4 linked regions of the Homo sapiens genome follow. The protein of the gene in region 2 interacts with the protein of the main gene of each other region in a biochemical or structural test. Each region holds a gene or a part of one and is shown on either strand. Other genes may lie near its edges.

The links.
Region 1: the proteins of RET (region 2) and FRS2 form a complex in vitro, tested with the Homo sapiens proteins (one study listed by BioGRID).
Region 3: the proteins of RET (region 2) and PTPRF form a complex in vitro, tested with the Homo sapiens proteins (one study listed by BioGRID).
Region 4: the proteins of RET (region 2) and DOK5 form a complex in vitro, tested with the Homo sapiens proteins (one study listed by BioGRID).

What each region holds. Positions count from the first base shown.
Region 1 is NC_000012.12:69,571,255-69,578,954, reverse strand, and holds part of FRS2 (fibroblast growth factor receptor substrate 2), read right to left. Parts: intron 7,680-7,700; coding exon 7,521-7,679; intron 6,838-7,520; coding exon 6,674-6,837; intron 4,951-6,673; coding exon 4,000-4,950; 3' UTR 1-3,999. UniProt on the Homo sapiens protein: Adapter protein that links activated FGR and NGF receptors to downstream signaling pathways.
Region 2 is NC_000010.11:43,100,913-43,108,612, forward strand, and holds part of RET (proto-oncogene tyrosine-protein kinase receptor Ret isoform a precursor), read left to right. Parts: intron 1-1,429; coding exon 1,430-1,717; intron 1,718-3,852; exon of another isoform or gene 3,853-4,039; coding exon 4,040-4,281; intron 4,282-5,463; coding exon 5,464-5,659; intron 5,660-7,700. UniProt on the Homo sapiens protein: Receptor tyrosine-protein kinase involved in numerous cellular mechanisms including cell proliferation, neuronal navigation, cell migration, and cell differentiation in response to glia cell line-derived growth family factors (GDNF, NRTN, ARTN, PSPN and GDF15).
Region 3 is NC_000001.11:43,596,431-43,604,130, reverse strand, and holds part of PTPRF (receptor-type tyrosine-protein phosphatase F isoform 1 precursor), read right to left. Parts: intron 6,384-7,700; coding exon 6,078-6,383; intron 5,412-6,077; coding exon 5,218-5,411; intron 2,061-5,217; coding exon 2,034-2,060; intron 716-2,033; coding exon 598-715; intron 521-597; coding exon 1-520. UniProt on the Homo sapiens protein: Possible cell adhesion receptor. It possesses an intrinsic protein tyrosine phosphatase activity (PTPase) and dephosphorylates EPHA2 regulating its activity.
Region 4 is NC_000020.11:54,478,022-54,485,721, reverse strand, and holds part of DOK5 (docking protein 5), read right to left. Parts: intron 1-7,700.

The sequences.
Region 1 (7,700 bases), on a different chromosome or scaffold from region 2:
AGTACAGTATCACTTATGTCTTTTTATTAGAGAAATATGGAATGTTTATAAAAGAAATTAACCATGGGGGTAAAATTCATATTTCATATACAATTTGGCAATGGTAGTCCCACTGTTGGACAATTTTTTATAAAAGAAAAAATTAAAAATCTAATAAGCTACCTTTATACAAAGTTGCTATATTTATGCCTTTACGTAGGAAAAAAACATTTATAATGCAAATTAGGACATACAATAGTCTTACAATATTATACAATGTAATGAAAATAAAACATAACACAAAGTTTGTCCTTTATAAAATGTATATTTTGCATTACTAATGCAAATGTGGCACACTGGTGACTACTGTACTACTTATACCAGTCTGTTTCCATGCTATAACTGTCCAATTGCCATAGAACTGCAATTATAATGATGCTACAAAAGAACTGTGTTATACCAAAAATGAGGAAGTAGGGATGGGGAACAGGGATGTAAAGAACAGGAAAGATAGATAGGGTGCTGGTTTGGGCAGAGTATACTGTGGTACGTCATAAAATATGTTAATTTTTCAAGCCAAAAACATTTTCTTTACATTCTGTAATTTCGTACCAATGCCTTTATTCAAATTTGGCAAACATCAAGGAAAAGGTAATTAGTACCATATACCTCACACATCAGAAATATGAATGAGATGCCAATACATCAGTTACTTGTGAATGATGTCTCTGATGGTATGTCTATTTCAAGAATATATGTATTTATACACACACACTACACATTGCACAAAACATTTGGGCATTATAGGTTAGGAATAGCACGGGGGAATTGGGAAGTACTTTTTCATCTGTTAAAACCTTTACCTTGAGGCAAAAATATGGCGGCACATTGTTGGGAAATTATGAAAACATAAGGCCCCTGTCCCATTTTTAATAGAACATTATTGAGGTACATTTTTATATGCTGTGCCACAGTTTTGGGGAGGGGGAGGAGATAAACACTAGCTTGACTTGTTCTATTTATAACATTGAACGCTGGAGAGGGTCAACATTAGTATCTATAAAAACAAAGATTGCTTGGCAAATTTTCCTAAGTCCCAGATATGATGTATTCTGGATATACTGAGAAGTGAAAAGCTTTTTGCTGAATCTTAAAGAGTAAAGTGCATATCTCATCACTCCACAGCAGCAGTAAATAAAAGGAAATATTTGCCAGTCTTCCTGGAGGGAGGGAAGGCACCATATTTTCATTTTTAGAAGAAGATGAAACTGGGAAATAAAACACACTAAGAAAAAACACAAGTAATACCAATATCAGTTTCCAACCCTAGCATGGGATAGATGCTGTTATGATTTGTATGGATAAAACAGTATTCTATTTGGAGGGAAAACATTAACAATGATTATATTTCCAAAACCAAAAAGAAGGATCACATGGTCTACCAACAGAATTATCTAAAATTAGATCTGCCTCAGAAAATCTGAGATATATGGCCACAATTATATGCTAATAAAATATCAATATTTCATTCTAAAATGCACCTAGTAATAGGTACATCCTTCGAGGACACAGCTTAATGCCCATTACTAAACTACTGCAAAGGACAAGTAGTATTCTAAATTACCTTTTATTAAATAGGAACACAAGTGATTTCTAGAAAATATCTAGAAATTAACACCAGTTGTATATATTTTCCTAATACTCTTATAGTACCTAAAATCAAATTCTTAGCAGACAAATTGGTCCCATTTTCCTTTTTAAAGCACATAGTATTTAAAGCATAAACTGTAATGATTATATTGGAGTTATCTAAAAAAAATAAAAACTAATTAGAATCCGGGGGAAACAATGAAAAGGATGACGGAAAGAAAGAATAAAGTACCCAACCTCCAAAATGAATAAATAGATCAGCCCTTGCATTTGGAGATTAATGTTCTGCCTTGACTGGCTGTTTCAGAAAAAAATGTGCAATGGTTCCATCATAATTCTTATTCCACATTACAAAAACTATTACATAAATTTGGCACAATTAGCAATTTACTCAGAAGAAAGGATAAGTGGAACAATATATTAAAAATGGAACCTGCATCATGGAAACTGCACACCTATACCACTGCTCTCTTTTAAGAGAACAGTGAGCACTTTAATAAGCACCAAGTTCACAGGGGAACAAAAGGGAGAAAAGAAAATTCTGCTATGCACATAGAATGATAAAATACACTGATATTGATTTATAGTAAAGACACTAAAAATGGCACTAAAACGATAAAGACACCTTTAATAATTTATTTTCTTTATAATGATCCCACTCTATTGTTCTCCTAATCCATCATTGTCCTATGATTCGGTTACTGAATAGGTTGGATGCCAATATGACTAAAACTTTTTCATGCTAAATTAACCTTAGTTATATCTGGTAGATCCAGATCATAATCTCAAACTTCCTCATATTTAGAGAAAATAGTAAAATATTTTGCAAGGTTACCTAACCTTTTCCACTCTACCTTCTCTCGTATTCTCTAGTGTTTAGGAAATTGGAACATCTTTGATTTTCCAAGAGTTTGACATATGGAGACTCTTCAGTTTATATAAACTTTAATTCATTTTAAATCCTAAATTATGATACAATCTCACTGCTACAAGACTTCCACTGTACCTGCTATGCTGGCAACAATATTAATATTTCATGGAAATCGAAGGATAATCAAAGATCCAGCTACAAGTAAAAGGACAGCAGAGCTGAGGAACACTAGAGTGGGCAGAGTACAACTGCAGCGTGTAGCTGGGGGAATTACTGCTAAAGTGCTGGGGAAGAGTGCCCACAGAGACAACACGGTACACCTTGAGGGAACTTTGCATGTTAAAAGTAGCTTCCTTTTTTTCTCAGTTTGCTAAAGAGATCACCTATGGACACAAGCAAATTTAGAATTGGAGAATGTTTTTATCAACTTGAAAAGTAAACAGCTTATAAATAAATACTGGACAAGGGCAACCCTGTTACAGACTAACAGTAAGTTCCAAATGAACCTTCAAAACCATAATTTGACAAAAATGCAAACTAAACAACAATGAACACATAATCCAATTTCAAAACTATATACAAACTCAAACATTTTAAATTGAAAAGGACATAAGGCAACAAAATAAGACATCCCAAACACCAAAGAAAAAAACTGAAGATAAATGGAAACCTAATGGCACAAATGCCTCCAGAAAACAATGTGTTGTCAACAATCTATAGGAGAAAAACTTTCAGGAGATTGTGGTTCAGATTTTCAAATGTTTTTGGGTAAAGTGACCTGAGACTGATTCTTGAGCCTATTATAATTTTAAGATATCTGGACATGCCCTTCAAATGACATCATGAGATGAGTAAATAGAAAATCTTGTCTCCTTCCTGCCTTTCAGTGCACCAACAGCAAAGCACACTCATGGACACAGGCCGCTTTCTAGTAACACTGAAGGCAAAGGAGCTGACTGGTGTAAGAGGAGGTGCGGTACTTCTGTTTCCTTTACATATGTTTTGGCTCAAGTCAAAAAGCCATTAATTAATGAAATAAAGGATTCCTCATGTTACATGCTGGAGGCCACATACTGTGAACACTGAATCTACGAGCATTACTTTCAAAGCCTATAGTTACCTGTTAGCAATGTACATTGTCAAGAGGCTTTATAAAAAGTTTTAAAAGCCAACCATGACTTAGACATGAAAGGTATGCGTTAAGTCCAGAATATTGATAAAAATCAACCAGCATGTCATTTACTTCAACTCTCATTTTAAATAGGCACTGTGAAAACGGGAATGCTGCTGTACAACGAGTAGTATATAATGAAATTAGTGTTCTTTAAGGAGTACCTGCTCTACATTAATTCCCTTTAGTTAAAGATGCACATGAAATATTCAGAAAAAAATTTTATCAGTCTATAAAAGGAGTTAGTGTTTAGAAATGAAAATGAAGCACTTGCATCTTCATTTTTAAAAACTTCACAAAGGTGCAAACAACACAATGCTTTCCAGGCTCACATGGGCAGATCAGTACTATTGTGTCTAGTTTTCCTAGATGTACCATCATCTCGTGGCAGTGCTTTCTGCAAATTTGACATAGCAGCAGTTCTCTCGATGTCTATCACGGCATACAGCTCTGTGCGCCTGGTAGGGGTTTGTGGAAGGGGAGTTGTAGGCGTTTTTGGAGTCTGAGGGTTGTCAGAGTCACTGCCACCTTCCAAGTCAACCTGTATGTAATTAAGCTGCCTGTGTTCTAAACTTGGGCGTCTGATATCAAAGTTAAAGACTGTTGGTGTACAGTCCCGACGCCTTGAATATTCTATTTTGTGAGCACTTGCTGGCACTGTTACATTCTCTGTATTTACATAGTTATGCATTGGATCTAGATTATTATGGTAGCCATTTAGAGATGGGGTCTTTGGTCCTAAATTGTCATCTTCATCCCTACTTAGCTTGCGGGCTTCCCAAACAGGAGGCAAAGATGGTAGATTTTCATAGTTTAATAATGCAGTTCTTCTCTGAGCTGAGTTGTTGATATTCTGGGTATCTGAGGTACTGGTGGATGTCAGACGACCTCTCCTGACCCCTGAGGCACTAGGGATAGATAGCCCATTTATATTTTCATACACCAGTTTGTTAACAGAGGGTGCATCTCTTCGTTCATCACTGTCATAGCCAGTGTCCCATTCTGTGTTATTTGCTCCACTTCCACTAACTTGATCTCTTCCAAGTTGCTCCAGTTTCTCTTTTTCCATTAACTGCTTTTGAACAGGGGTTGGCCCTAAAACAAATTTGACTCCTTCAGGTTCAAGAAGAATCTGAGGATCCCTGTCCTCAATACTACTTGGTTCTTCTTTTGGTGTGCTGCTTTCAGCGTTAGAAACCCTCGCCTCCAATGGAACATGCACACTTGTGCGGTTTTTCCGCTCTTCTTGCACACCTGTAGTGTTGACATAGGTATGTACCTAAAACAAAACAGAAAGTGAATTAGTTAACTTACTTAAAAAAACAAAACTGAAAAAAAGCCTGACCACATCAGTTAATTTTATTGACAACAGTTAACTGTATTAACTTTCTCTCCAAATGTACTCTTACTTCAAAACTTTTGCACCTGTTTTTTTATTAATAAAAAGGTGGAAAGAGAAGGAGAAATGTAGAAATGTCTTCCTAATTTGATAAAAGAATAACGACTTCAAAATAACACGCAGGCTGGGCGCAGTGGCCCATGCCTGTAATCCCAGCACTCTGGGACACTGAAGCGGGTGGATCACTTGAGGGTAGGAGTTCGAGACCATCCTGGCCAACATGGTGAAACCCCGTCCCTACTAAAAATACAAAAATTAGCTGGGCATGGTGGTGAGCGCCTGTAATCCTAGCTACTCTGGAGGCTGAGGCACATGAATCATTTGAACCCGGGAGGCAGAGGTTGCAGTGAGCCGAGATTACACCATTACATTATCAGCCTGGGCAACAGAGTGAGGCTCCATCTCAAAAAATAAAATAAAATAACATGCAACATTATATTTGATTGTTAAACATGATAAATATTATGTAAAAAATAAAAATCAGGAACAAAATAGGGATTATCATTTTGCTGCTGTTTTAGAGGTTCTCAAAGCATTAAAACATGATCCAGAAATAAATAACGACTTTGAAAAGAGATAAGTTTATCCTTATTTACTGATGATCTGAATGTATAAGAAGATTAACTCCACTAGATTTAATAAGAGTTCTGTAAAATGCATATATATAAAATAAATGCCACCAAGTAAGAAATTATCACTATTTAGAAAAGCTTAATAGTATTTTGGGGAGATAATATAAAAATATTTACAAGGGTCGGGCACAGTGGCTCACGCCTGTAATCCCAACACTTTGGGAGGCCGGGGCAGGCAGATCACTTGAGGTCAGGAGTTCAAAACCAGCCTGGCCAACATGGTGAAACCCGGTCTCTACTAAAAATATGAAACAATTAGCTGGATGTGGTGGCCTGCGCCTGTAATCCCAGCTACCTGGGAGGCTGAGGCAGGAGAGCTGCTTGAACCCGGGAGGTGGAGGTTGCAGTGAGCTGAGATCATGCCACTGCACTCCAGCCTGGGCGACAGACCAAGACTCATGTAATTACAGTAAATAATATAACAACTCATTATGTAAAGAACACAAAGAAACTGATTTTAAAAACACTAAAAACTTTTTAATGTGACATATGGTTTACAAAACATAAGTATAACTAATTAATACAGAGGTTCCAACCAGATACTTCATTCCACACATGAAAACTAGCATACTCGGGAACACTAAATAACTCCATAACATTAACAGCAAAATCTACCTTCCTACTCGTAGTTCACTGACTATAATGGCTAAAATATGAAAAGCAGCATAAACTCTTAATCCATTGGACATTCTTATAATGGGAACTGACCATTAGTTATGCCTTTCTTAATCTATAGATGTACCTCTTCTGTGAACCCACAAGCTACTGTAATGGTAAGTTCCCCTGAATACCCGCATATATTTGAGCATAAACCAGCAAATATATGCTATCTCCTCTGATTGTTCACTACAAAAGTAATTTACAAACAGATAAAGTTAAACTTCAAGCTGAATAAAATCTTCCAGTATTAGCACAGTGATACCCTAACTCTGAACAATCATTATTGCTGTTACACAGTAGCACATGCTTACTTGTTCCTCAGCCACAAGCAAAGGATGTGTAGATTCTTCCCCTACTGAAGGCAGGCGAGCACTTCCCACAGAAGGATGTCTGCTTGACGGATGGGATGAAGCATCTCCAAATGAGGGATATCGGGGATATCCATTAGGTAAGTTCTGAGCAGCAAATCCTGGAGCTGAGTTTTTGTTTATTGGTTTAAGGAAAAGGGGGGCGGGGCAGAGAGAATAAAAATGAGTAAGAATCGAATCTGTACTGAGGATTATAGGAGGTCTTTCTGCCAAGACAGCAGAAATCAGAGCACAAATAGTATTACCCCCAACTCCATATTTTACCTAATATGAAATACTGAATGTTTTCATTTTTTAAATATTTGAAGTACTTAGAACTACGGCTGTGTTTTTTTGTTCTGTTTTGTTTTGTTTTGTTTTTGAGACGGAGTCTTGCTATGTCGCCCAGGCTGGAATGCAGTGGCATGATCTCAGTTCACTGCAAGCTCCACCTCCCGGGTTCATGCTATTCTCCTGCCTCAGCCTCCCGAGTAGCTGGGATTACAGGTGCCCACCACCACGCCCGGCTAATTTTTTTGTATTTTTTTAGTAGAGATGGAGGTTCACAGTGTTAGCCAAGATGGTCTCGATCTCCTGACCTAGTGATCTGCCCGCCTCAGCCTCCCAAAGTGCTGGGATTACAGGCGTGAGCCACTGCGCCCGGCCTACAGCTGTTTTTAAAAACTGACAACCATTATACTTCTGTTATCCAGTGGTGATTTCTAGTGTGTTATTGATTAAATACCCACAATCTATAGCTTACAACTAAACGTCTGTTATTCAAAATGTGAAAGGGAAAAGGGGTACTTACTTGTAGGTGTTCGAGGTGTTCTAGGGACTTCCAATTCTGTCTGATGATTATTTCTTTCTACAACTGGCTCTTCCACCACATTTATACTATTATTTTGCATAATCTCTTGCAACATGTTAAATAATTCTTCTGCACGGGCACACTTAAAGGCAAAGATTCCTACAAATATAAACCAAAAGG
Region 2 (7,700 bases):
GCTGCGTGAGGCTGTAGGAGTTTGGAGACACACGGGAATCATCCGGGTACACTCTTCTGCCAGACCCGAATCCCTCTTCCAGTGGGGCTAAAAAGGATTAGGAGGTTTCGAGAGAGGGAGTAAGTGGGGCTGGAAAAATCCCAAGGTTTTGATTTAGCAAATGACCTGCAACTCTCTGGAGAAGCGGCAGTTCCCAAGGAAAGCCTGACTTCTTATCAGCAGCTGGCTGCCCTTGTACCTGGCAGGGACTTGGGCCTGTCCCAGGTGTCCAGGGAGGAAAGAGGAGCAGTCAGAGCCAGAGTCACGGCCACATGTGACATTGGTAATGGGAGGGGTGGGGGGGAAGCAGAGCCCCTGTGACAGGAAACGGTGATGCTGCACCTGGTAGCTCCCATCCCTAGCACCCCTCCAGGGCCACAGCTTGCACAGCCCTCACAACCACCCTGAGCCCTGTCTGCTGGTGAGAGGCAAGCCTCAGGCTATGAATGCAGAGCAGGCATCCCTGCCCTACCCAGGCCTATCTGCCAGGGACAGCCAGGGTGCAGGGGAGGGAGGAGACTTGGGTGGGCAACTCCCTCCGGCGCAGCCCAGGCAGTTCCTGGAGGAGGCAGCATCTGAGGTTGGTCGTGGTTCTACGCACTTAGTTGCTGCCCTCTTCATCCTGAGCCTCCAGGGTGGAGCTTGAGGAATGGGAGTCCCTGGGTGGGGGCCAGTGTGGAATTTGCCCTGGGCCTGCATTTCGTAGGAGGCCTAAGCCCTCCAAGGTGGGGAGAGGCTTCATGCACAGCCAGTTCCTGTGGAGGAAGAAACCACAGGGTAATTTAACAGGGAGAGTTTGTGTAAAGAATTAATTACAACAGGGGATTGGAGCAATGAGGGACAGGCTAGCAAAAAGCAAAGAGAATGCCAGAGAATATGGGAAGAGCAGCTCTGAGGAGCAGCCGCCCACCTAGGGCTGAGATGGAGGCTGGGAAAGCCCTCGCAGCCCAGCTGAAATGGCTATGGCGCTTCGGTGATGGAACTTGCCGGAAATGCCCCCTCTAGGCATTGGGGAAGTATGTCTGCGGCCACTCCAAACCTCCTGAGGAGGGTGTGGCAGGGGGGGTGCTGGTCACCCCTTACTGGAGAAGTTGCCACCATCAGAGTTGGGGAGCCTTAGACCCAGTGCTCAACACACCTCCCTGAGGAAGGGGCCTCTAAGCCAAGAACTGAATGATGAGAGCTAGGCCTGTGGGGCATTGGTGCTGGGCAGCAGGGCTGTGCAGCAGAGGTAAGGAGGTGGCAGGCAGAGCTGGAACACCAGTCTGAGCCTTGTGGACCTTGGTGGGGACCAGGGTTTACACCAGCCCTGGAGCTCCTGCCTCCTCCCCATTCCCGACTGCCTGGCAGATGTGGCCGATGCCCCCACAGACCTGACTTCTCTCTGCAGACCGCGGCTTTCCCCTGCTCACCGTCTACCTCAAGGTCTTCCTGTCACCCACATCCCTTCGTGAGGGCGAGTGCCAGTGGCCAGGCTGTGCCCGCGTATACTTCTCCTTCTTCAACACCTCCTTTCCAGCCTGCAGCTCCCTCAAGCCCCGGGAGCTCTGCTTCCCAGAGACAAGGCCCTCCTTCCGCATTCGGGAGAACCGACCCCCAGGCACCTTCCACCAGTTCCGCCTGCTGCCTGTGCAGTTCTTGTGCCCCAACATCAGCGTGGCCTACAGGCTCCTGGAGGGTGAGTGCCGACCTTGTGGGGCCGCCCCACAGTGCCTGCTACTGCTGGTCTTGCTCTGCGAGCCCTTGACACAAGCCATCTGGTTTATTCTTCACCTTCATGCCATCAGTTCATTCAATATTCCAGAAGTACCTCTTGCATGCCTGCCAGGGGCCAGGTACTGTTCTAGGAGCTAAGGATATAACAATGAACACAACGGGTTGGAATCTTGCCTGCCTGCAGCTTTCATTCTTGTGGGGCAGACAGAGCGTCTGAGCATGCCAAGGAAATCAGGTGGCTTCTGGAAGGAGCTAGCTGGGGAGGAAACTGGGAAGAGGGAAACGCTGAAGAGGAGGGGAACAGACGAGGAGACCTCCATTCCTCTATCGTAAATTGGGTGGTCAGGGTGGGGGCTAGCAGAGCAAAGGTGGGAGGGTGCCGGGTAGGCAGGCCTAGCCCCTTGGAGGGCACCACAGTGTGACCCTCGTGTGCCTGGAGTGCACTGAGCGACAGGGAAGAGCTGAGGCTGATGGGGCAGAATAGTTCCTGGGGCAGGGGGCAGGTCTGGGAGTGGCTTGCAGGGCTTTCTCCGGAGGAACATGGGGAGCTATGGAAGACTTTGGAGGGAGGGAGTGCTGGCAGGACCTGACTTAGTTTTAAAAGGATTAGTCAGACTACTGTGTTAGGAATGGTTTGGGGTGGGAAGGTTCAGGGGCGAAGCTGGGAGACAATCAGAAGGCTACAGGAGAAACCTCTGAACAGGAGGATGTGGGGTGTGATGCCGGGATACGGGTGGAAGCCGAGGCATGGCGAGAAGCAGGCAGCTGCAGCCAGTCAGAGGGTGGGATGAGCTGGATCCCAGTGGAGAGGGGAGAAGGCAGCTGACTAGGTGCAGGGAGGCCCCATTTGACCATCAGAAAGTCAGGAAGTGGGGCTCAACCAGGTCACAGAGGCTGCACCGCTGGCAAGTGTGTCCTAAATTCACACTAACTTTATCACACAAACATGGCAAGAATATTAAAATCTCAGTAAAGGAAGACAAGCCATCACTTATGCTTCCCCAGATTCCTTTCATTCTCTGGGGCAGGGTTGATGGAGCACTTGGTTTTTTGCATGCTGCCCTTTTTCACTAAAAATTATGTGATTAAATTTAGTTTAGTGGGGGGTTTTTTGTAATCACACTCAACAGAGGAAAGCATTATATGATAAGCATTTCCCACATACGTAATTCATGCGCAAGGCATGGTTCTGCCTGGGAGGCTTGTGGAGTTGCCCCCGCCTCCTTGGGGTGGGTTGTGGGGTCTTCAGCGGTGACCTTCCGCCTTCAGCATGCCCCCTTTTCTGGATTATTTCTGGAGGACAAATCCGAGGTCAGGCTCGTTGAAGACTGTGTTGTGGTTCCTGGCCCTGCTTCAGGGGCGATGTAGTCTAGCGCGAGCTGCCATGCAGGGCACGGAGCATTCGCTTTTGTCTCGACATCCGGCCTTCAGAGGATGACCAGCCTGGCGACGCACTGGACAAGGAGGTGTAGAGTGGGGATGCACACTAGGCGGTCGGAAATCATTATGCGTTAATGTCACATCATACCCCAGATGTCCACTGTGTTTGTTTTCAAGTGGTAGAATCGTGGCTTTCTCACGTTCTCTAAAATGAACACATATTGCTTCCATAATTGAAAAAAAAAAAAACCTAACAGTTTTTAAAAAGCAGCCAAGGTCACCAATATGGTGAAAGGCCGTCCCTACTAAAAATACAAAAATTAGCCGGGCATGGTGGCGGGCGCCTGTAGTCCCAGCTACTCGGGAGGCTGAGGCAGGAGAATCGCCTGAACCCGGGAGTTGGAGGTTGCAGTGAGCCAAGATCGCGCCACTGCACTCCAGCCTGGGCAACACAGCGAGACTCCATCAAAAACAAAAAAAAAGCAGCCAAGGCCAGTAGCTGGCTCTCTAGGGCTGCAGTGCAGCTTGGGCTGAGGCAAAGCCACCCTTCCCCACACAAGGCCACTCCTGATCAAGGCCAGGTGGGCGGAGGGGTGTCCCAGTCCCTACTGGTTGATCAGGGTGCCTGGTCCTGGCTCTTCCCAACCAGCACGAGTGAGGACGCAGCTGCAGCAGGACGTAAGCACAGTCATCGCTGCAAACTGCAAACTCGTAAGCACAGTCATCGCTGCAAACTGCAAACTCGTGCTCCGAGCGCTGCCCTCCCCTGTGGAGCGGAGGAGGGGAGGCCTGGGGCCGCGGCGGTGTGCGCCCCGCTCTGACCGCAGAGCCCCCTTCCCGAGGAAAGCGGCTGGCCCGGTCCCGGCTGGTGATCACGCGGGGCCCCTGTCTGCTTGGTGCGCAGGTGAGGGTCTGCCCTTCCGCTGCGCCCCGGACAGCCTGGAGGTGAGCACGCGCTGGGCCCTGGACCGCGAGCAGCGGGAGAAGTACGAGCTGGTGGCCGTGTGCACCGTGCACGCCGGCGCGCGCGAGGAGGTGGTGATGGTGCCCTTCCCGGTGACCGTGTACGACGAGGACGACTCGGCGCCCACCTTCCCCGCGGGCGTCGACACCGCCAGCGCCGTGGTGGAGTTCAAGCGGAAGGAGGTGCTTGTCCGCGCGTGCTGTGGTCTACCCAGTGTCTGTCTCCGGCCACAGTTCGTTTCTCGGTCGGTTTAGTGTCCGTGTAGCCACCCAACCGTGTGGCCGACCATTCGCGCTTTCATTTGTCCTTCGCCTCCGTCTGCGCCGTCTGTCCTAGGGGGAGGGGAAGGGGGAGTCCTGCCAGCACCCAGCTGGGCCTTGCCTCGGGAGGCAAGGACCAGGACGAGGCCCGAGGGCTCGCGTCTGGGGCATACTTGTGCCGCTGCAGGCGGGCGCGGCGCGCTGCCCGGGCGGGGAGCATCTGCCGGGAGGGCACTCCCTCCCACCAGCAGTTAGCCCCCAACGGGAGGGCCCTTGAGTGACCACGAGCAGAGCCGGGGATTGGAGAAGGACGGGAAGGCGGATCACCTCCGGCGCCGCCCGCCCCGCCCTTCTCCGGCTCGCGCTGGTGGAGCGCGACCGCCACCTGCTGGGCCTCGGCCTTCCTGCAGCCGGCCCACCCAGCAGGGGCCGTGGGAGAGTGGGCGTGGGGACTGAGGTAGGTAGTACGTTGCCTTGTTCCGCTTCTCTGGGCACACCACGTGCAGGTTTGGCAGGGAAAGGGGGTCTGGTCGAAAGCACAATTTGTGAGTAAAGGCTATGTGGGCCTCCCTGGGGTGACAGCAGAGGCCTGGTGGGCAGAGCCATCCAGGTGCCCAGCGGCTTTCCTCACAACCCCCTCCAGCCTGGGGTAGGAGGATGCTTGGAACAGAGCGCTCTGATGTACACCTGGCCTCGGAGCTCGGCTCTGCCGGCTGTTCCTGTGTGACCTTGACCTGACCTTCACCCTGTGGGGCCCAGCTTCCTCAGGGGAGAGTGGAGGTGCTCATCCTGCTCTCTGGGGACCTGGATGGGACCTGCCAGCAGGGTGCCTGGGCATCGGCTGTAATTCTCCTTATAAGAGGTCTGCATTGTACCTGTTACACAGGCGAGGCTCAGTGGCTCAGGGAAGGTGACGGCCAGGCTGGCCAGTGACCCCGTGGGAACTTGAACCCAGGTCAGACTGTCCCCAGACCTGGCTCTGACAACACACATCTGGTCCACCTATGGGCTGTGTGGGACGTGCAGCATTCTAAGGTCTCTGGTTTTGGGGGGTCTGAGGGGCCCATCTCGCCTGCACTGACCAACGCCCTCTGCATCCTGCAGGACACCGTGGTGGCCACGCTGCGTGTCTTCGATGCAGACGTGGTACCTGCATCAGGGGAGCTGGTGAGGCGGTACACAAGCACGCTGCTCCCCGGGGACACCTGGGCCCAGCAGACCTTCCGGGTGGAACACTGGCCCAACGAGACCTCGGTCCAGGCCAACGGCAGCTTCGTGCGGGCGACCGTACATGACTATAGTAAGAGGGGCTGGTGGCACGGCCTGGCTAGGCCCCCAGGAAATGAGGTGCTCGCTCTTCATGGGCAAGCAGCACCCTACACACATGCACACCTGGCATGGCCCTCTGTGGCCCAAGCCACTTCCCCTCCACCCTCTGCCCAGCACTTCCTGTGTCTCTGCCAGGCCTGCCCTCCAGCCACCAGCAGGGCTTTCACCATGGGACCTCTCTCCCTGAGCTGATCCATGGCCGACCCTGGCAGGGCCCCACCACACCCCCCTGCTGACCTCACCAGGGCTCACCACCGACTGCAAACACACATGTCACCTGAGGCTTTCCTCCAGCCCCTGGCACTCCATCGTTGCCCCTAAGGCGTCCCAAGTGCTTACGGATTATTGCTCCAGCCTCAGCAGCTCTCTGCTAAACAGGCTGGTGTACAGAAGCAGCCCCGAGCCAGGTCAGGGCTTCTGAGCCCATTATCCTGCCTGACTGCTGACATGCCACCATGCTCACCTGCTTGCAGGGCACCTTTCAGCAGCGGCCTTGCTTCCTGCCTCCCTCCGCCACCTCCTGCAGATTTCTCCTGGGATCGCCTTCCAAATAAACCACCTGCATTTGGGGTCTGTGTCTGGTGGAACCCCAGGCCATGAGTCCTTCACCCCTTTCTGCCTGGCCTGGTCCTGTTCATTCCTCAGTCCTCCCCACCTCACCAAGCCTATGGAGGCCCCACTTGTCAGAGGGGAGACAGCCTCCTTGCCCTGGCACTGAACACCCTGTGTGCCAGAGTGCCCCTCCCATCATTGTTTCCACCACATGAGATCCACAGTGGCAGCACGCGGCAGGTACACCGATGGCATGACTTCCAGGGCTTGGCCTGCGGGGTCATTGGGTCTGCTGGAGGTTCCTGCAGTGGAGGGTAGTTCTGCCATGCTCTGGGGGAGCTGTCTGGAGGGCTCTAGTGTGTCCTTCCCAGGGCCTTGGTAATGTAGACCTTTAACCCCCCATGCCTCACACACACACACACACACACACACACACACACACACACACACCCTGTTACCCAAAAAACGAAACTCTGTAAAACATTTTAAAGAGGTTTATTCTGAGCCAGGATGAGTGACCACAGCCTGGAGAAAACACAAACCCAAGAAGCCTTGAGTAAGTGGTCCCCAGGTCCAAGGTGGTGGAGTTACAGTTTGCTTTTATACATTTTAGGGAGACAGGAGTTACAAGCAAGGACATAAATCAACACACAGAAGGTATACATTGGTTTGGCCCCAAAATGCAGGGTATCTTAAAACAGGGGCTTACAGGTTAGAGGTAGATGCAGAGATTCTTTAATTTACAGTTGGTTGAAAGAGTTAAGCTTTGCCTAAAGACTTCAGGTCAGTACAAAGGAATGTTAAGGAGGCCTGCTATGTGTCGCCTGATGCTATACAGGGTCAGGAGGGAAAGTAAACCACGTTATACCTGGGTAACTTAAAAAAAAAAGGTTTTTAACAAGATTTTATGGACCAGGCATAGTGGCTCACGCCTGTAATCCCAGCACTTTAGGGAGACCGAGGCGGGTGGATTGTTTGAGTCCAGGAGTTCGAGACCAGCCTAGGCAACATGGTGAAACCCTGTCTCTACAAAAAAAAAAAAAATACAAAAAATTAGCCAGGCGTGGTGGCACATGCCTGGATTCCAGGAACCTGGGAGGCTGAGGTGGGAGGATGGCTGGAGCCTGGGAGGTCAAGGCTGCAATGAGATGCAACAGAGCAAGACTCTGTCTCAAAAAAGAAAACCAATGTTATGGTTTGTAGGGTGTTTCTTAACCCTTGCCTGGCATGGCCTTAGGTCCTGTTTATAATTTGGTATCTTACTGCCACAAAGAGTCCGATCTGTCAGTCTTATGATCTCTGTTTTAATGTTAATGCCGGTCAGTTGTGTCCAAACTCCAGCAGGAAGAGGGCCTAATAAGGCAAGTCCACCCTGCCTTCCTGTCATGGCCCAGAATTCTGTTTTTAAGGTTTTTCTGGTGTCCCTTGGCCAAGAGGGGATCTATTCAGTTGGTCCGGGG
Region 3 (7,700 bases), on a different chromosome or scaffold from region 2:
CTGGTCCATGCGCGGACCTTGATGTCGTAAGTGGTGTCTGGCTTGAGGCCAGTAAGGGTAAAGCGGGTGTCTGTCGTGATGTTCTGCAGCTCCTGTTGGCTGTTGATGTCTCGGAACACCACGGTGTAGCTGATGATGCGCCCGTTCCTCTCCGCCAGCACTGGCGGGTCCCAGGCCAGTTCTGTGGTAGACGTGGTCAGTCCTGTCACATGCAGGTTTTGGGGGAAGCCGCTGGGCAGGTCCTCGGGGGTCCTGATCTCCTTCTCGAACTCCTCACCCAAGCCAGCCCGGTTCTTGGCAGCAAGCCGGAAGATGTAGGTGGTCCCCTTGTGCAGGCCGGTGACTGTGAAGTGCTGGTCATCCTTGCCGAAATCTATGGTGTTGGGCCGCGCCTCGTCGGCCCGGCAGTACTGCAGCCGGTAGCCCAGCAGCTCGCCAGGCAGTTCCTTGGGTGGGTGCCACTGGAGCAGCGCAGTGTTCATGGCCGTGGTGCTGATCATCATGGTGGGCCGGCCTGGGACTGAAGGACCACGGGCTGGGCTCTGGCGCTGCCCTCCTGCTGCCCCACCCTCAGGTCCGTCCTGACCCCTCACTCACCTGCACCTGTTGTAGTGACAATTTTGGGCTTGCTGCGGGCACCATCCCCCTTGGTGGTATAGGCAGCAACAGTAACGGAGTAGGTGGTCTCCGGGGTCAGGCCGCTGATAGTGGTTTCCTGAGGGAGGAGGAGGGGTTCGTTCCCATCACAAGAATGCAGGGAGAGGCCAGACCTTGTCAGGGACCTCAGGACCCTAGCCTGAGGGGAGCCCCGGGGCACACAAGGCCAGGGGTTGTGGAAGGTGGGGCTATACAATGGTGGCCTCTGCTGGAGAGGAAGCAGGCAGGTAGGATGCAGGCCTGGGAGGACCCCGCCCATCCCAGGAGCCGCACGCCTGGGGCAGACAGCTCATTATTCTTTTCAGACAAGAACAAAGGGCCAGACTGTTTCCCTCACTCCACTGTGCTGTGAACGGAGACTGAGGATATCAACAGGGCACAGCCTCGCACGCACCCAGCACCTTGCGTGGCTCTTGGCAGCCACACGCACACAGCCTACAGCTCCTGCATAAGCAGGCGTAAGGCTGCCTGTGGACACCAGTGCATGCATGCACAGACAGAGCAAGGTGGCAGGATGGGCTAAGGTGCCATCCTATAGGACCCAGTCAGGACTCCGCTGCCCCCATATAGGCCACTAACTCTGTGAATGTCTATACCCTGCAATACCTCTTGAGAAAGGCAGGGGAGGGGCTAGGAGAATAAGAAAACCTCCACACCTGGGGAACTGGCTTCCACATCTGTTCTCAGTGATGCCTGAGACAGCAGCCAGGGCAATGTCCTCCCCGCTTGGCAGACCCTGCCCATATACCCATCTGCAGCAAAGGCATCATCTCTGGACATGCGGAGAAACACCATGGGAGGTCAAGCCACACCACACAGAGAGAAGAGTGGGAAGCAGGGCAGGGACCACCGTGCAGTGGGAACAGAGCCGTCATCAACCCTGGTATCCCTCCAGCTCTGGCCTTGAGTGGGGCCCCTGCAGCTGCCACCACCCCCTCATGGACCCCTCCTGCCACAGCTGGAGGGTCTCCCAGGGCTGGGGCTCCAGAATGCACCAATGCCAGAATCCGACTCTCCAGACAGCCCTCCCAGCCTGGGCCCTAAAGCAGGTGATTTTTCACTCCAGGGATCAATAAGGCCTAACGATCAGGATTGGATTTAACTCCATCCCTGTCTGGCCGGGGCAGGGGCCAGGCCCTGGTCGATCATGAACACTGGCCTCAAATTGCTGCTCGACAGGCAAGAAGTAAGGATTAGAGGAAATGCCAATCGCTGCTCAGCTCAGTGCTTGTGTCTAAACGCCAATTTTCTCCTGATGTGGCTAGAGCCCTGTGGATCTTGGCAGTGCAGGCTAGCAGGAAAGGAGGGAGAGGAGGAGCGTCCCACGAGCCCAGCTTGACCCATGTCTTGTCCGCGTTCGCACACCTGTTACTTACATAGTCCTCGGACTCCTCTGGCCGCCACTGACCGCGGGAGAGGGAGAGAAAGGGAGACAGGATGGTGAAGGACTCTGACCTGGAGAGGGCCTGGCCTGGAAGGGACCTTGCCCAGGGAGGACAGAGGGAGGGCTTTTGGGCCTCAAAGTACCCATGGGGGTAGCACCCCAGAACAACTCCCGGTTCAAAGATTTGAATCCCTGCCTCACTGAGCACCAACTGGGTGTGCCAGGGCTGAGGAGGGTAGGGAGACAGGGAGGGCAGGCAGCCTGCAGGGAGAGGACCCGCTGACAGAAGGCCCTAAGAACACAAAGCAGCTACAGATGCTCTGACAATTTTGGGCTTGCTGGGAGGGAGAGGCTGCCAGACAAGAAGGGTGGGTTCAACAGCTCAGGCCAAGGGAAAGGAAGACACTGAGGGGTGAATGGGGTGCCCATATGCCCTGGTTTGCCTCGGACAGTCCTGGCCTGTGCTTGTTGCCATGGAATTGACTATTCAGTGTCTCCTTCCACCCGCCAAAGCATCCCAGATGTGATCATACATTACACAATCACCCCAGGCATGAGAAGTGTCCCACAACAGTAAGAGTTGGGGGTGAACAGGGCACATGGCCAGGGTGGGCCCAAGGGCAAGCCAGTCAGCAAGACTATGAAGGCTGTGAGTGCCAAGCTCAGAGCCTGGGCTGTAGCCCACAGGCACGGGAAATCACCTATACCCGTTCCTTCCTCGGGGTGTCTGAGGATTAAGGTAGGAAGGAATGTTTCGGGGCTGGCAGTGTTGCGGGCCTTTGGTGCATGTAGATATTCTAGATGGACAGGTGGAGGGACTGTGAGGTCTCCATTCTGAGGCCCCATGAAACATCACAGGGAGATGGTCCAGGATGTCTCCAAGCCGGAAGTACCTGGGGTCCTCCAGCCCAAGCACCCCCACAGTGCCGGTCTGGCCTCTGTCCACTGGCCTCCATGCTGGGTGGCCTAAGTTCCTCCTGTCCTGGGACACTCTGTTGGAAAGTCCTTGCAAGAAGCATGGAACAGAATATGAGAGGAGACTCTGGACAGGTCCTTAGTGCATGGCCACTTTATAGGGTGTGGCTGGGCCCACGTCCCTTCCAGTCTCCTTGCCTGCGGGGAGACCTGGGCTGTCCCAACCAAGCCTTGGCGTGGAGGTTCTCACATCACATGGACCCTGTCCTGCGCTAGAGGCAGAGCAAGAAAGAAGGGAAGGACGGAGGATGAAACCAAATGGAGATGAAGGAAAGGGGTCAGAGGAATGGCAGGGGGAGGAGGGAAGGAAGGAGGAGAGAGAAGAGAAAGAGCAAGACAAAAACAGAGACTCCAAGAAGGAGAGAGAAATGCAGGCCACGAGAGGGGAAAAAGGGAGGCAGGGAGATGGAATCTGACGTAAAAGGAGACAGGTCTGGCTCCACACTTCCAGGCTGGGGGTGGGAACCTGCACCACATAGTTCCTTCAGGCATGATGGGGGATGAGCTGAGGGGATGGTGCTGTTGCGTGAAGGACAGAATGTGCCGCCCTTGACAGAAGCACAGGGACAGCTGGGCCCTGTGGCCACGCTCGGGACCAGGCCCCACTGCTCTCCCACTGGCGAGGAACAGAATGACCCAGTCCTGAGAGGGCTACGGAGCAGGCCTCCATCTTCAGTGTCCTCCGGGAGCCCAGACTCGAGTTACCGCCCCCATGATGGGATGTCTGAGACTAAATGGGCAGCGTCCCTGAGCCTCTGGCCCAGCTCCCTTCCGAACCTCTTGGGACCAGAAGGGGGCACTTGAAGTGGCTTCTCTGGAACCCCACTGGCCACAGCTGTGGCCACTGGCCCCCTCAGAGAGGAGGGGCTAGGGGAACCCATTCCTGGGATGTTTCTGGGTAGGTGTGTTCACTGAGGCTCCACAAGGAGCCCTCAACCTGCCCCAGGAATGCAGGTGGGTGCACATGCCTGCCTCCTCCACCCCGGATGCCTTAGCACTGGGCAGGCTGAGAGGGGGAAGAGAGCACCCTCTGGGCAGAAAGAATTTTGCTTCAGATGGCTGAGCCCAGCTGGAGGAATAAGGCTCCTGTCTGTGTGGGTGACCCCACCCCTCTGCACAGTGTGTACAGCATTGAGTGGTACACGCACCCCTGCTCTCCACCCAGGCAGAGGTGAGAGGCTCAATGGGGAGGCCCTGCTCCTGGATAGGGAGACCTTGAGAGCACCACACCAGGTGTTGTGACTCTCCAGCAGGGTCTTTTGGGAGGGGGCTCATGACAGCAACTGTGGCCCTTTCCTAGGGGTCCACAGACATGGCTTCTCATCCAAGCGCAGCAGCCACCTACTTGCTGAATAATTCCATACCACTCTCATAACCCCCCAGCATTCCAAGTTCTTCATCTGAATAGCAACCAGTGTTCAGAATACCCCAGGGACCTCACCCCAAGCTCAAGGGCAGGACCATCCTCCCAGGAAGACAGATGTGCACAGAGGGAGGTGTGAGGCTGGCCAGCAGGCCTAGCTCTTGAGGGTGAACATCAGGGGCTGAATCGTTCCCTGCAGGGCCAGGAGCAGGGCAACACTCTACTTGGCTACTCACAGAGCTTTGCAGCAACCACGGACCCATGGCCGCCAGTGGGGTAAGACAGCCCTGGAGCACTCTCTCTACCCTTTCTGTGGGAAGAGTGGATGCCAGCCCAGCACTGTCTAGGGGAAAGGCACATCTCAAAACCCCGACCTGGTGGGGCACAGTGGCTAACACCTGTATTCTCAGCACTCTGGGAGACTGAGGCAGGCGGATCACCTGAGGTCAGGAGTTCGAGACCAGCCTGGCCAATATGGTGAAACCCTGTCTCTACTAAAAATACGAAAATTGGCTAGGCGCAGTGGCAGACGCCTGTAATCCCAGCTACTCGGGAGGCTGAGGAAGGAGAATTGCTTGAACCCAGGAGGCACTCCAGCCTAGGCGACAAGAGTGAAGCTCTATCTCAAAACAAACAAACAAACAAAAAACCCACACCCAAAAAACCCCAGCCTAACCCCTGATGCTGCAAAGCATCTCGGGTCTCACAACCAAGGAAAGGCAGTCACAGCACTGCTGAGGGCAGGCAGGGGAAGAGGGACATATCTGGGCCCCAAAAGGGAGCTTGTGCATGCTGGTCTGTGCTCACCCTGCCACCCCACCACCACCCAATGCTGCACCTGGGCCTCGGCTAGCATGACGTCTTGGATGATGGGGAGTCCACGGGGCTCGCCATTCTCCAGCCGCACGTAGGTGACCTGGTAGCCGCGGATCTGGCCATGCTGCTTGCTGGGGACAGGCAGCTTCCAGTAGACATGCACAGCAGTGGAGTTCAGTGGCTCCACCTCCACCTTCCGCGGAGGCCCGCTGGGCACTGGGGGGTCAGGTAGAGAAGGAAGTCAGGCCTGGAGGTATCAACCCTAGCTCAGGTGGGCACAGCAAACTTGAGGGTCCTGCCTCAGCACCCCACTCCCCCAGGAAAGGCCCTGATACAGTTTCCTTAGATCATCTGTCCCTGGTGAGGCACACGGAAGGCTCCCTCTGCCCGCCACGGGTAAGAGCCCAGGACTGGCCCTGCCCACCCCTCTGGCCCAGGCCTCTCACTTGGTGGGGAGGGTCGACATGGGGGAACAGGTGGAGGTGGGGCACCAGGTCTTTGACCACCCCTAGTCAGCACAACCTGTCCTGACTCCTCCTAGGCCCCAATCATGCCAATGTCCAGCCAACGTGGAGTCTTGCTGATTCTACTTTGAGTATCTTTTACACCAATCTGCCCAATCTTGACCTTTCAAATCTTAGACAGGGCTGCTTCTCCCATCTTAGCCTGTGAAGGTTTCAGCTGCTTTGGAGACAGCCCCAAAGGCTGGGATTTGGGCCTCAGTTATCCCGTAAGTGACATCCCCCCACTTTAGGCCATTACACCTGAACCAGAAAGATGAGTTGACCTGGGCCTGTGTTCAGGAAAGGAAGGCCCTGGGGAGCTTGGTGGGTGGTGTCTGAGGCAGAACGCCTCCCCTCCCGCCCCGGTGGCACTGCCTACCGTCCTCATCGGTGCGCACCAGCACCGGGCTGCTCTCGGGGCCGGGGCCCACGTCTGTGTGTGCCCGCACCCACACCCGGTACTCCGTCCACTTCTCCAGGCCCACCAGGTCCCAGCTGGAGTGCTCACGGCTGATGCCATCCACCACATGCCGCCCGCGGTCCTCGCCGTCCACCGCCTCGTAGGCCACGGAGTACTGGGTGATAACGCCGTTGCGGCTGTCGGCAGGCGGCGGGACCCAACTTACCCGGACCGTGGTGGAGCCCATGCTCACACACATCACCTTCTGGGGAGGGGCGGAGGGGGCTGGGGAAGACAAATGGGGGGGAAGCAAGCAGATGGAGGGTGGGGATCACAGGCACAATGACTGAGTCACAGTGGACTGGAGACTCACCCGGGCAGGCTACCCCTTAGGTGCTGAAATGGCCATCCCAGGGTCCCTCCAGGCAGGCTGCTGCCACTCTCGCCAAGGACACCTGACTCCCTCTGACCTGCCTCCCTCTCTCTCCTTCCCTCTCTCACACACACACACGGTGATACACACACAGTTATCACACACACTGACTCTCACACAGCCTCACACACAGTGTCAGTCTCAGTGCCTCACACACGTCTCACACAGTCACACGCTGTGTCACACACACAGGGTGTCTCATACATATACTGTCTTGGTGTCTCACAGTGTCTCTCACAGTGTCACACACATACATAGTGTCACATATACATAGTGTCTCACACATAGTCTCCACATATAGTGTCATATACAGTGTCACACATATACAGTGTCATATAGTGTTTCACACACACAGTCTCACACATATACAGTGTCATATACACTGTCTCATACGGTCTCACACATATACAGTGTCACATACACATAGTGTCTCACAGTCTCACGTATACATAGTGTCATATACACAGTGTCTCACACGTGTCTCTCACACAGTCTCTCACAGTAAATACACAGTCTCTCATGGTGTCTCACACACACACTGTCACATACATAGGCTGTCTCGCACATATACTGTCTTGGTGTCTCACAGTGTCACACACACACAATGTCTTGGAGTATCAGTGTCTCTCACACAGACTCACATATACACAGAGTATCACATACCCGTGTCTTGGTGTCTCACACATGGCATCTGACACACACTCTCACACACAATGTCTTAGAGTTCTGACACAGCATCTCTCACACGAGGTCTCTCCCACACATATGCTGTCTCACACAAAACATACACGATATCACATACACACAAGCACGTGGCCATCCCACTGCCACCCGCACACACAGCCACATATGGAGAACTGCTTCACATCTGCTGTGCCCACGGTTCTGCTCTTCCGAGGAAGAGTGGCCCCAGTGGCCCTTTTGGCATAAGGCAGCCTTCACCTGTGCCTGCCTGGAAACAGTCTCTTTGCCAGTGCCACAGGTAATCACCAACAGGAGGCCGAACATGAAGGCCAACAGCCCCTGGCGTGGAGAAAAAGTACCCACCAACAGAGGTGCCCTCACTCAACAGCTTCTTTGGGAATTAGGAGGCAGACACGTGTCTCCTTGTGTCCAGTGATGTGTCCAGACTCCACGCCCACCGAGGACTCTGCTGCAATGCACAGGTT
Region 4 (7,700 bases), on a different chromosome or scaffold from region 2:
TTAAAAACTAGACACAACTACTCTACAACCCAGCAATTGCACTCCTGGACATTTGCCTAGAGGCACGAAAACGTATGTTCACGTGAAAACCTCTACACAAATGCTTATATGAGTATATCAGCTTCATTCATGATAGCCAAAAACCAGAAACAACCCATGTCCTTCGACAGGTGAGTGTCTAAACAAACTACGGTACCTATTGTACATACACACCATGGTACACTACTCAGCAAGAAAAAAGAACAAACTTATACACACAACAACCTGAACGAATCTCAGGGGATTATATTGAGTTTTAAAAAAGCCAATCCCCAAACATTACATACTGTATGGTTCTTTTACATTACATTCTTTTTTTTTTTTTTTTTGAGACGGAGTCTTACTCTTGTCACCCAGGCTGGAGTGCAATGGCACGATCTCAGCTCACTGCAACCTCCGCCGCTCACTGCAACCTCCGCCGCTCACTGCAACCTCCGCCATCCGGGTTCAAGTGATTCTCCTGCCTCAGCCTCCTGAGTAGCTCTCCACCATGCCCGACTAATTTTTGTATTTTTAGTAGAGACAGTGTTTCACCATGTTGATCAGGCTGGTCACCAACTCCCGACCTTGTGATCTGCCCGCCTCGGCCTCCCAAAGTGCTGGGATTACAGGCGTGAGCCATCATGCCCAGCCTACATAATATTCTTTTTAAAAAATTCTGAGACAGAGTCTCATCTTGCTCTGTCGTTCAGGCTGAAGTATAGTAGTATGATCAGAGTTCACTGCAGCCTCAACCTCCCAGGGTCAAGTGATCATCCCACTTCAACCTCTCAAATAACCAGCACTACAGGCGTGTACCACCACACCTGGCTAATTTTCTATTTTTATTTTTTGTAGAGACAGTCTCACTATGTTGCCTGAGACTAGTCTCAAACTTCTGGGCTCAAGTGGCCCTTCTGCCTTGGCCTCCCAAAGTCCTGGGATGACAGGAACAAGCCACCAAGCCTGGACTCCATTTACATAATATTCTTGAAATGACAAAATGACAAAAGGAAAACAGATTAGTGGTTGTCAGGGGATTAGGGATATGGAGGACAGGGGCAGGAGGGGCAGCTATATAAGAAGACTGTGAAGGATCCTCCAGGGGATGAAATGTTCTATATCTTAATTGTATCATTGTCAATATATTGGTTGTTATATTGTCCTACAAATTTGAAAGATGTTACCATTGGGGGGAAAGTGGTTAAAGGGCATGGAATATCTCTCCATATTATTTCTTACAACTACATATGAACATAACAATTATCTAAAAATAAAACTTCAATTAAAATAATGAAATATTGATCTTAACTTTTTTTTTTTTGAGATGAAGTCTTGCTCTTTTTCCCCAGGCTGGAGTGCAGTGGCGCAATCTCGGCTCAATGCAACCTCCACCTCCTGGGTTCAAGGGATTCTCCTGCCTCGGCCCCCTGAGTAGCTGGGATTACAGGCACCTGCCACCATGCCCAGCTAATTTTTGTATTTTTAGTAGAGACAGGGTTTCACCATGTTGGCCAGGCTGGTCTAGAACTCCTGACCTCGGGTGATCCACCCGCCTCGGCCTCCCAAAGTGCTGGGATTACAGACGTGAGCCACCACACCCAACCTGATCTTAATCTTTAAGAAGGCATAGCAGGTGGAAAGTGGGAGAGGCTGGGGCAGGGAGGACCAGACTTCTCTAAGAATCTCATACAAGCTGCAAAGCATTGTCTCAGAAAAGTCACCTGCATCCTCTCACTGGAGCCTAGTTAACAACTCGGCTTAAGAACACAAGACAACCAGTTAACAATTTTGTTCTCTGGGATCCAGGGCATAAACAGAGGGTGAGAACACTAGTGAAATAAAGGCAGCCCCCACAACTGCTCTGCAAAAATCAGCTTCCAAATACTTATCCAAAATGTAGCCATCTGCATTCTAGAAAGAAGCTATTTTAATTTAAACATTCACATATATCATGTGGCATTTCTAAACTCACAATTTTATTTTGAATTTCACAGGAACGGGGGGGTCGCACCATAATCTCTTCAAGGCTTAGAATCTCCAAAGGTTTAATTTCCACCCTACTAGGATCAAATTCCTAGAGTAAGAGAAAAATCAAATTTGCCCTTCCTCATTTCACAAAAATAGAATAGAAAAATATCCTCAGGCATCTTTTCACTTCAATATTTGACCTGTTACTCAGATTAATTCCTCTTTAACTATAGTGAATACATTAATCTCTTGTTAATAATACAAATCAAAAATTAAATTGTCAACTCCTTGAGGATGGTGATTGTATCTGCCTTATTTAAGGTGGTTAACACTAATAGGTACTCAAGAAATATTTGAGGAATGATAAAACAAATGGAAGAAAATATATTCCAATGAAAACTAAGTTCTTAAAATACCAAACGATTCCCCACAAAAATTACAAAGCTGCTTTAAAAATAAATATTTCTAGTCTTCTAATAAATATGATTTCAAAAATACATTGGCAGATGTGGGGACAATCATATCACTAATTTGGTTTATGTCTATATACAAAGTCACTAAATTGGCCACTCTGCTTAAATCAGTTTTGGGGATGATGATGTAAAGGCTGACTTTATGCACAATTAATCGTCTCATCCACATGGACAATCAGATGAAGACGACTGAAATACCAGCTGGAAAGCCCTTCTGACATGGAAACCATGTCAATGAAGCTGATTCAAATGAAGCCAAAATAACTGAGTCGTCCCAGCTGATGCATGTATATATATGCAGTCTATCTGGCCATAAATTTCCCTACTGGTAAAGTTATCCCAAAGCCTCTTGTTCTTAAAGAGTAACTAAACTTCACATATCTTACTGAATAGTTGCATGAGTTCATATGTGCATATATGTGCATGTGCATACATATACTTAAATAACAATAGCATATGATGAGGCCGGGCACGGTGGCTCACGCCTGTAATCCCAGCACTTTGGGAGGCTGAAACGGGTGGATCACCAGAAGTCAGGCATACAAGGCCAGCCTGGCCAACATGGTGAAACCCTGTCTCTACTAAAAATACCAAAATTAGCCAACTGTGGTGACATGTGCCTGTAGTCCCAGCTACTCAAGAGGCTGAGGCAGGAGAATTGATTGAACCCAGGAGATGGAGGCTGCAAGTGAGCCGAGATCACACCAGGACACTCCAGCCTAGGCAGCAGAGCGAGACTCCATCTCAAAAGGAAAAAAAAGGAGTATATGAGTTTATTCTATCTGTATAATTTTCATACTACGATTATGACTTTGTCATGGTACCATAAAAAATGCATGGATTCCTGAACATCTAAATCTAAAATCCTCAAATGAAACATGAAAGCGTTTGTGGCATACCAGGTCAGGTGAAACTATAAAATGAAAGAATTAGAAAATGTTTATTTTTAAAACCTGGCCGTGAGCTGACCAATTTTTAAAATTTCTTCTCTACCACAAAAGAAAACAGTCCCCAAGTTAACAAAAATACCTCCTAGTCCAGTGAATTCACTCGAATTGGAGTTACATGAAGAGGCATTTCTCCTTATTTTATATCTCTACCATTTGTGTAGAATCATAAAAAATCTTATAAAGGCGAAATCTTATAAATTCCTTCTGTATCAACCATCAATGCCAAGCAACATTTGGTACTTGTACTAAGTTTGTTTTCCTAACTAAAAAACAAGTTCTTTGAGGATATGAACAATTGCAGTAGAAACAGTGAAATAATAACCAGTTAAGTGTCATTGTCTCTAACCACACTGGAAGTAGGAGTGAGAGCCCTAATAAACATTAATTGGGTTTTTACTGTGTCAAGCACTGTGTTAAGCTCTTTATGATCATCATCTATTAGGTGAGTAGTAAGAGTCTCCATATTTTTACAGAAGATGGAGGCTTATAAATATTAAATAACTCACCAGAAGTCACATAACCAGCCAGTGAGTTGGGATTTTAACGCAGTCACATGTCAGAGCCTATGCTCTTAAGCCACAACACAGTGATGGGGTCATTAATTTATTCCACAAATCTTCATCAAATGCCCACTCTGTGCTGGGCCCTGCACTAGGCACTGGGGGACAGCTATGATTAAAGAAGAGAGAAACAAGTCCCAGCCCTCATGTAGCTTCACATGTCCTTGGCAGTACATAGGCAATACAAAGATAAATGAAGGAGAGGGTAATAAGTCTAGGGAGAAAAAGGGGCAGGGAAAGAAGGAAAGGAGAGGGAGAAGAAATAAAATAGAGTGGTCTGAGGCCGGGCACGGTGGCTCACGCCTGTAATCCCAGCACTTTTAGGAGGCCGAGGCTTGTGGATCTCAAGGTCAGGAGTTCGACACCAGCCTGGCCAACATGGTGAAACCCTGTCTCTATTAAAAATATAAAAATTAGCTGGGTATGGTGGTGCATGCCTGTAATCCCAGCTACTTAGGAGGCTGAGACAGGAGAATTGCTTGAACCCAGGAGGCAGAGGCTGCAGTGAGCTGAGATCACGCCACTACACTCCAGCCTGGAAAAAAGAGCAAGACTCCGCCAAAAAAATATAGATAGATAGATAGATAGATAGATAGATAGATAGATAGATAGATAGATGATAGATACATGATAGATAGATAGATGATAGATAGATAGATGGTAGATGATAGATAGATAGATGATAGATAGATGATAGACAGATGATAGATAGATGATAGATAGATGATAGATAGATAGATGATAGATGATAGATAGATGATAGATGATAGATAGATAGATGATAGATGATAGATAGATGATAGATAGATAGATGATAGATGATTGATAGATAGATAGATAGATAGATGGAGGCCTTAAAGGCCTCATTGAGAGGGTAGGAGCTGAGAAAAGGCTGAAGGAGGTGAGAGAGCAAGCCAGGAGGAGGTAACTGGGGAAACAGCATATTCCAAGCAGAGAAAACAGTGAACGAGAGGGTTCTGGGGCAGCATAGGGCCTCATGGCCCATTGTAAGACTTCTCTGCAGTATATGGAAAGTCACCAATGGTTTTGTTACCAGACAGGGGTTCTCATCCAGACCCCAAGAGAGGGTTCTTGGATCTCTCACAGCAAAGAATTCAGGGCAAGTCTGTAAAGTGAAAGCAAGTTTATTAGGAAAGTAAAGGCATAAAGAATGGCTACTCCATAGACGGAGCAGCCCCGAGGGCTGCTGGTTGCCCATTTTTATGGTTATTTCTTGATGATATGCTAAACAAGGGATGGATTATTCATGCCTCCCCTTTTCAGACCAAGGGTAACTTCCTGACGTTGCCATGGCATCTGTAAACTGTCATAGCACTGGTGGGGGTAGCGCCACGTAGCAGTGAGGAAAACCAGAGGTCACTCTCATGGCCATCTTGGTTTTGGTGGGTTTTGGCTGGCTTCTTTACTGTAAACTGTTTTATCAGCAAGGTCTTTATGACCTGTATCTTGTGCCGACCTCCTATCTCATCCTGTGACTTAGAATGCCTTAACTGTCTGGGAATGTAGCCCAGTAGGTTTCAGTCTTGTTTTACCCAGCTCCTATTCAAGATGGAGTTGCTCTGGTTCACACGCCTCTGACAGCTTCAGCAGCCAGGTGACATGACCTTTCTTACATTTCCAAAGGAACACTTTACTGTATTGAGAAGGCACTAGCGGGAGCAAGAGTGTAGGCAGGAAGTCAAATGAGAAGACTGTTGCAATGTTACAGGGAGGAGATGAGGAGGGTTCGGACCAGGGTCGTAGCAGTGGATAGCGTGAGGTGACAGCCGGATTCTAGATATATTTCAAAGATACAGCCCACAAGATCTCCTGATGGATTGCCTGTAGGGGTGGGAGATGAGGGGAGAAGAGTGAAATGACACCAAGGTTCGCTTGTGATTTTTACCTTCGCAACCAAAATGCTGGGACCTCTAGTGGCTAAGATGGAGAGGACTCTAGGAGCAGCAGGTCTGTGAGTCATCCAAGTGGAGATGTGGGATAGACAGGAGAATTTACATGAGTGGAGGTCAGAAAAGAGGTCCAAGCTGCTAAGTCCTTGGTAGACAAGAGCACAGAAATGTCACTTAAAGGCAAGTAACTGAGGGATTGTGCGTAGATAAATAAACCCGAGTTTCCGTTCTGAAACTTGCACTGTGGGCAAGCCATGACAATGATTGATTGGAAAATCATCTCCATTGCAAGGAAAGAAACGAAGTGAGAATTGTTATATGATGCTATCTAAGTCACACATTCAGCAGGTTAATGTTGTACAAATTGCCTGATTTGCCTCTCCCCTAAAAAGAAATTTTTAGTGCATTTAATCGATTACTCAAATAATTATGGACAGCTGCTCCCCTCCTTCCCCCAGCCCCTCAAATAGTAACGTCGACATTCCTGAACAAATTCAGTACCCAGGGCACAGCTGGAGACCTCCAGGAAACAATGGGGATTAAGCTGGGGAATACAGATGTGAAGATACTGAAACTTTTGAGTTAAATGAATTATATTTCATTAAGCTTTTTGATGTCTAAAGAAGAGAATAAATCTATACATATTTGATTGCTTAATCATTTAAACTCTTTAGGATTTCAAATGAAGGTGACCACTTATCTGTGACCCATTTGAATGGGAATGTTTTTAGAATGTTTCCTGTCCTGTTAAAAAATCACATATATAAATATACGTATATTATATATTATACAATATGTACATAGGTTGTATGTATATATTTATTCCTATGTATAAAAATACACACACATACACATATATGTATATAATTTGTAAAAGTTTCATCCATTGAAAAAATCTGGAGCTGCATAAACATTTATGCCTTTGTACACTTCTACATAGAAAGAGAAGGAAATAGATAATTCCTATATCCGTCTACCAATCCTAACTCATCTTTGATTAAAGAAAATGATACAAGCAGAATCAATGTTCTAGACTTTCATTGCATTTTCACAAATATCTTCTTTAATGCTCCCAAGAACATTAAATAGTGTTCATTGTACAGACTAGGAAACTGAGGCCAAGAAAGGTCAAAGGTCAACAAGCAATAGAAGCAGAATGCGTTCCCTTCTCCTCTTTCTCCAAATCTGAAGAAGCATTTATTCCTTGGCACCAGGAACAGCTGCTTACCATGAAATGTTTTTGTATTTAATTATAAACCGTCCCAAACATGGTCTGGATTCCATTAATAAATGCTGTTGTATTAGTTCCTAAAGGTTATAAATGGCAAGACCATCCATGCACTATATAGTTCAGCACATATTTCAACATGAACTTACCAAGTGTCTACTCTGTGCTAGACAAAATAAATGCCCTACCTCTCTTTGAGACTGGCACATATTCCTAGAAGATACATGTCGCATGCTGTTCTAGACTATATGTAGCCTAGATTAATACCGCTAACATTCCTTACTGTGGACATAGGGTCCCCATGCCAATTCCGTACAGCATCCTTCACCAATATTTGCAGCCTCCATTAAAACTTTGGTTTGCACTGTGTTCTGGCAACTATGTAATCAGCCTCTTTTGTAAATCATACCATAAGAATATTTTAAAAATTAACTGGTGAGAAAACCAATGCTAACAAATAAGACCAGATTTACTTGATCATATTTTTGACCTTTTCTCTCCATGAGCAATAACCATAATTCAATAGATATTCTGAAGTCTGAACGTGAACACAGACAAAAAGAATAAATCTTGAGAAAGTATACTGCTCA